Regions from separate parts of the Homo sapiens genome. Here region 1 is linked to region 2. The links come from fine-mapping of genetic effects on gene expression. A gene starts in region 2. The other region holds a variant in brackets. All regions are shown on one strand. Distances are between the middles of the regions. Region 1 has its middle 31 kb from the start of SGMS1-AS1. Region 2 holds the start of SGMS1 (sphingomyelin synthase 1).

Region 1 (2,911 bases), 32 kb after region 2:
AGGCAAAGAGTCTATCTGCAACTAAGGCAATGCCCCAACGGAAGTGACCCAGAGAGCTATCATCTAGCAGCAAGGAAAGTAAGTCCTCAGGAGACTTGGTCTTTCCTAAAGGAGAATAAGTCTTTCCTGAAGAGACATCTGGGCAGTGCATCCCAGTGTTCCCTACCCTTATGTCATCTCACCTCCAGGAAGTACCATTACTTCCTCTGCCTAGTACACAACATATTTTATTTTTCATCTCACTCTCAATCTGGAAGTGATTCCAAACCCCAATTCCAAACACTAGAAGGATTAACCCCTCTTGCGACAAGCAGCCCCAGAAGAAGGTGCACAGACAGTGCTGAGCAGCACAGGGAGTAGTTGAGGAGAACACAGTGAAAGGAAAGCAGAACCTGTTCCATGGGGGTGAAGAACCAGAAGCCAAAATTTCACAGAGCATACGCATGAAAGACAAGATACCATGGATAGAGTGAACTTGGAATAGGTAGCAATGGAGACCTTCCCACAACTGCGAAATGATTGGCCAGGAGTCAATGACCTAGAATATAATAATCAAAAACCATGAATGACAGAAGAGAAAACCAGACCAGAAAATATATGAACAGAAACCATCCTCCTAGCCAAGCTAGTCTAAGGGCTTTCCCCAGTTTTCTTAAGAAAAAAAGAGAGAGAGAGAATTTTATAACTTTCCTTGTTCTACAAATGATTTGCTTTGGTAGATCCTTAGTGAGTAGGAAGAGAAAATGTATACCAGAACCCTCTTGCTTATCTGAAATGACTCCTGGTAAATATTGGACATAATACTCTTCCTACATCATTGACATAGATATCATATACACACATAGATATATATATCGGCATGTAGATATTTATATAGATATACATGTATAGATATCTGCATATATATATTTGTATACAGATATAGACATATAAATATTAATATACCTATATATGTATATAAATACATATACATATCTATATCTGTAGAAGATATCTACCATCTTCTATCTATATATCTTCTATCTTCTATCTATAGAACTATCTTAATTTAAAAACCTTTCATATATGCATATAAAAGGTAATCAAACACAAGCCAAATGAAAATTTGTTTAGCTATGTTAATATCAGACAAAAGAGATTTTAAGGCAGAAATTATTACCTGAAAGGAAGATGTATCCATCATCCATATAAAAGAATCAACTATTGAGGAAGTTGTCAAACTTGTGTATGTATATTCACTCACACAGAGTTAACACACATTTACAATTTTTATAGAACTAAAAGGAGCAATAGCCGCATCTTTGATCATAAAGACTTTAATATACCTTTTTCAATAACTGATAGCAAAAAGGATA[C/G]AAAATATCAATAATAATACAAAAATTTAAAGCAGTAGGATTAAATACTTTGATATAAAAACTGCACCCAAAAATAGCAAAACACACAATTTATTATAATGTATTTGGAACGTGTTTCAAAATTTACCATAGCTATCTATAGATATCTCTGTCTATCTAGGTAGATAGATGATAGATAGATAGATAGATAGGTAGGTAGATAGATAGATAGATAGGTTAGATAGACAGATATAGGCTGAGGTTAGGCCCATAACAAGAATCAATAAATACCAAAAATTTGAAATCCTTGACAGTGTTTTTTTGTACAACAATGTTATTAAGCTGCAAATCTATAGCAAGACTTTGAAAGTAACCAAATGTTTAGAAATTAAGCATCACATTTCTAAGTTATTCATGCATCAAAAAAGTAATTACAATGAATATTAAAATATATTTTGAATTTAATAAAAATGAAAGTAAAAATACTGCTTGTTAAAAGATGGGAGGCTTAGGCAAACCTCAGCTTGGAGATAAATGCATATGCTTGTTTAAAAAATTAAAGCTTGAAAATTAATAATCTAATTGTCAATCTCAAAAATTTAAAATGTGATGTCAAATTAAATCCAAAGAATTAGAAAAGAGAAGATACATAAGAAGCATGAGAAAAGGAAACAATCATAAAATAAATGAAATCAGCAAAAGCCAAAGTTACTTTGAAAAGACTGATAAAAATATACCATGATTATGCGTGAAATTAAAAAAAAAAAGAGTATCCACAAATTCTAAATATCATCAATAATAACAAGGAAATCATTATAGATTCTATAGTCATGGGATAGAAAAAGAGAATGTAATAAGTAACTTTAAGTCAAAAATTTTGACATAATTTGATGAAATAGATACATTTCTAGAAAATCATTAACAGTGACACAAGAATAAATAGCAAATCCGAATAGCTCTATATCTATTAAAAATAAAATTACAATTAAAGCTTTCCAAATATAGTGAGTCTAAATCAAATAAAATATTAAAAATCTGAAATGTTTCCAGGAAGAAACATTGAATTCCTAATATAAAATATAACATAGCATATGCAATCCCTTTACTGAAAATTGTGAGATTTTACTGAGAGAAATTAAAGATATTCAACAGAAATAAAGGTGTACCATGTTCCTATGTCATTCTTGGTATTAGAAGAAAGATTCAGTATTTTAAATAAATCTATATTTGTAATACACTGAAAATCACAATACTGTGATTAGTAATAGCATAATTTGTCTGCATTATATTTGGTGGCAACTGAAAAACTGACTATAAAATGCAAATGAAAATGCAGTGTATAGATAACTTTGAAGAAAAAATATAATGTGAAGACTTACACTATTAGATATAAAGTTTTTATAAATGTATATCAATTATGACATTATGGAAAAGGTGCAAGTATAGATATTTCAATGAAACAGAATAGAGAGCTCATAAAGAGAACCACACAATATATTTAGCTGATTTGTGAAAAAAATAGTGCTTCAGTACAATGAGGAAAAGATTCATTTTCAATAAATTGTGGTGTCTTTCAT
Region 2 (2,911 bases):
AGAAAGCAGCCTTCACTTGGTTTCGTAAGCGTGTACCGCTGAAGTCTGTACTGTTTGAAGGTGAAAAGAAACATCTGAGAAGCACCTGCCTGGATTCTCTTCGCTCCCTCCGGCCATGACAACCCTTATCCCGATTTCTACTTCGCGGCACCAAAGAGGAAAGCAGCATTCACCAGAACGCTCCAGGCTGAATCCGTTAGCTGGACTAGGGCACTCTATCCGGCCCACGGGAGGACGCCACAAGCCCGAGTTCGGGTTAAGACGGTGGGAGAGGCAGCCGCTGCTGCTGCTGTTTTGCCCTTGACACGTCGCTGGGGGATAGCGCAGACCCCCTCTGTCACGGAAAAGCGGCGTCCTGGAGAGACTGTCCAGTTCTGGGCTGCGCCGATTCCCCTCCAGGCCTTGCCCCTAAACGTCCCCGCCCCGCGGGGGCAGCCCTGCGGGGTCTCAGAGCCGCCCGCGAGCCTGGCGGGCTGTTACGCGGCCTGGAGAGAAGGGGAGCGCTCCTCGGGGAGGGGGGGTCCCACCTGTTTTGTCGTCAGGGGGCATCGAGGGGCTACGGTGGGGGGATCCCGAAATAGTGGGCGCCTGGCCGGCTGCGATCTGGACCGAAGGTACCAACTGTCACACCGCCACCTAGGCTGTGGGGGTGGAGCCGTGATTGGAGTCGGCCCCTGGGTGGGGGTCTCCGGACCCCGGGCGGGCTACTGCCCAAAGGCTCCCCGCCTCCCGATCGCCCCAATCCGACACCAGGCAGCCTTCCAGCCCGCACGCAGTAGCTCTGAAAAGGTGCCCACTGACGCCTCCTCCTTCCTCCCCGCCCCAACTTAGCCGGGGAGCCCCGCCGGCGGCCCGCCCCCTCCGAGCCCGGATCCCGGCCGCCGGACCTCCCCGCTGTGACCACCCACGGGAGCAGCAGCTCTGGAGGACTGCCCGCCAGGTACGCGCGCGGCACCGCGCGGGCTGCGCTCACGCCCCCTCGCCCCAGAGCAGCCCGCCCGCTGCTCCCCGGCATAAGGCCGGGCCCGCGAGACAGGTGTCCGATCGGCCCCCGCAACCGTGAGGCCGGCTGTCTGTCCCTGCCCCACGACTCACTTGCACTGGAGTCACGGCAGCCGCCGGAATTCCGCTCGCGGAGCCCCCGCCGCGGAATGAAATCCGGGGCAGGGCAGCGTCGGGGCTCCGCACCCCAATCGCGCTCTCCGACCGGCTCCCTAGGCGCGAGGGGAGAGCAGTCAGCCCAGGCCGGTCCTTCTCACTCCCGACCTGCCCGCCGCCTGCCGCCCGCAGCCGCTGCCCCGCTGGTGCGAACGCTTTCGACTTGCCACCGCGAGCCTCCCGGGCTGCCGAGCATGCCCAGTCCGCTGCCCGAGCCGGCCCGGCTTCCCGCGCGACGCGACTCCGCTCCTCCGGGTGTTCACTGCGGCCGGGGGGGCGGGCCGGCCGGGCGGGGTCCGCGGGGGGCTCCTCCCGGGACCGAGCGGGACCCCGAACCAAGGGACAGTCGCAGTTTGGGCCCCTTGAATTTTACTTTCAAGTAATGGGAAACTGAGGAGGCGGGCGCTTTCCCCAGCGTTTTTAGGGGCCCACTAAGTAAGGCCTAGCGGGAGCCAGATTTTACAATCTGGGACGGTAAATCCCTTGGGGCAGGGCCGGAGACGGGAGCCGCTAGAGCTGGTCACAAAGCAGGGAACGCAAACTCAGCCTGCTGGAAGCCAGGCACGAGTTTGCGAACTACTACTGGATTCTTTTTCCCACCAAGCCCAAGGGCTGCGACACTTGGGATTAATGCCCAATGGATCATTCCTAGGAAACGGCCGACCTGACTATTCGGCCCATTTTCAAACCTCTAACCATAGACTCTCATCTTTCTCCCACAACAGAAAAAAAAAGCCTCTGGCGACGCCTGGGAGCGCGACGGAGGCGCAAGAGCTCTAACCGCGCGAGGTGAAAACTCCGACTGCGTCAGAGCCGCCCCGCCCCGCCTGGGGCCCACCTTCCGCCGCCCCTCCGAGCTGCGGCGAAAACCCGGAGAGCGGCTAGGCCGGGGTCGGAGCCCGCGCATGCCCAGTAGCCCCACGTGGTGCAAGTCGCCTGAAGGAAGGTTTTCCTCTGCTCCCCGAGCGAAGCCCCAGCGCCCAAGTTAGGATGGACAGCGGGGAGAGCTGGCCTTCCCGCCCCGATGCCCGCCGTCCCTGGCCGGCCCGCGCCGCACCTCGGTGGCCTACAGGCAGCCCGAGGCCGTGCCTCCCGCGGGGTCGGGGACTTGGCGAGCGGGGGAAGGGGCGCGGCTACGGGCCCGGCGTACCACGTGACTGTCCGCGGCGCTCCGGGCAGCCATCTTCCGCCCGGCCATCGGGCCGCGGGCGCTCGGAACCGACCTGGGAGCTGGCGGGACCGTCCTCCCCCGCCACGCCCTCCCATCGGGCTTTGGGCGCCGGACTCTGGCCACCGCTCGGCACCTGCCTCCGCCTCGCCTTGGGGTATAGGAGTCCTGTACCGACCCCTGGCTTGCCCAGAGGACAGGTTCTCGCCCGGGCCAGAAGCAAACTGCGGCGAAATCGAGACAACAGAACTCAGGTGGCGGAGGGTCCCCGCTTTTCCCCAGAGGCGGAAGTTGGCGAGGGAGTCCTCTTCCGTTATCCAGCGAGAGCGCTGCTCTGGCTGCCTCCCGGTTCTAACCTAGTCCCTGCAGAGGAGTGATGTACCGGCAGGGACATTGGACAGAGGCCGTGCTCTTCCCTGCAGCGCATACCCCGCGGCCCCTGCTGGTGGGCCGCTTCGATGGTGCTGAGGTTCATAGTGAATATTTATTGAGCGCCTGCCTCGAGTCCCTTGGGTTTCCTGTTGTCTCGGGACCTGCCGCGTCACTATCACCCTAGAATTTGTTAGAAATGCACGTTTTCGGCCC

Evidence for each region. PIP is the estimated chance that this variant, and not a neighbour inherited with it, causes the effect.
Region 1: its variant is the best candidate, but not a certain one, in a credible set for the expression of SGMS1 in whole blood (INTERVAL, PIP 0.69).

The regions. Positions count from the first base shown.
Region 1 is chr10:50,654,537-50,657,447 of GRCh38, forward strand. No RefSeq gene overlaps it. Among named protein-coding and RNA genes, the nearest start is that of SGMS1-AS1, 31 kb to the left of the region's middle. The variant C/G (reference allele first, on the strand shown) is at 1,356.
Region 2 is chr10:50,622,612-50,625,522 of GRCh38, forward strand. It overlaps SGMS1 (sphingomyelin synthase 1), which reads right to left and starts at 1,345. Exons shown (of 11, transcript NM_147156.4): 1 at 1,096-1,345. It overlaps SGMS1-AS1 (SGMS1 antisense RNA 1), which reads left to right and starts at 2,340. Exons shown (of 4, transcript NR_126411.1): 1 at 2,340-2,580. RefSeq lists enhancers at 103-502, 1,214-1,742 and silencers at 693-1,032, 1,293-1,552, 1,601-1,758, 1,883-2,512.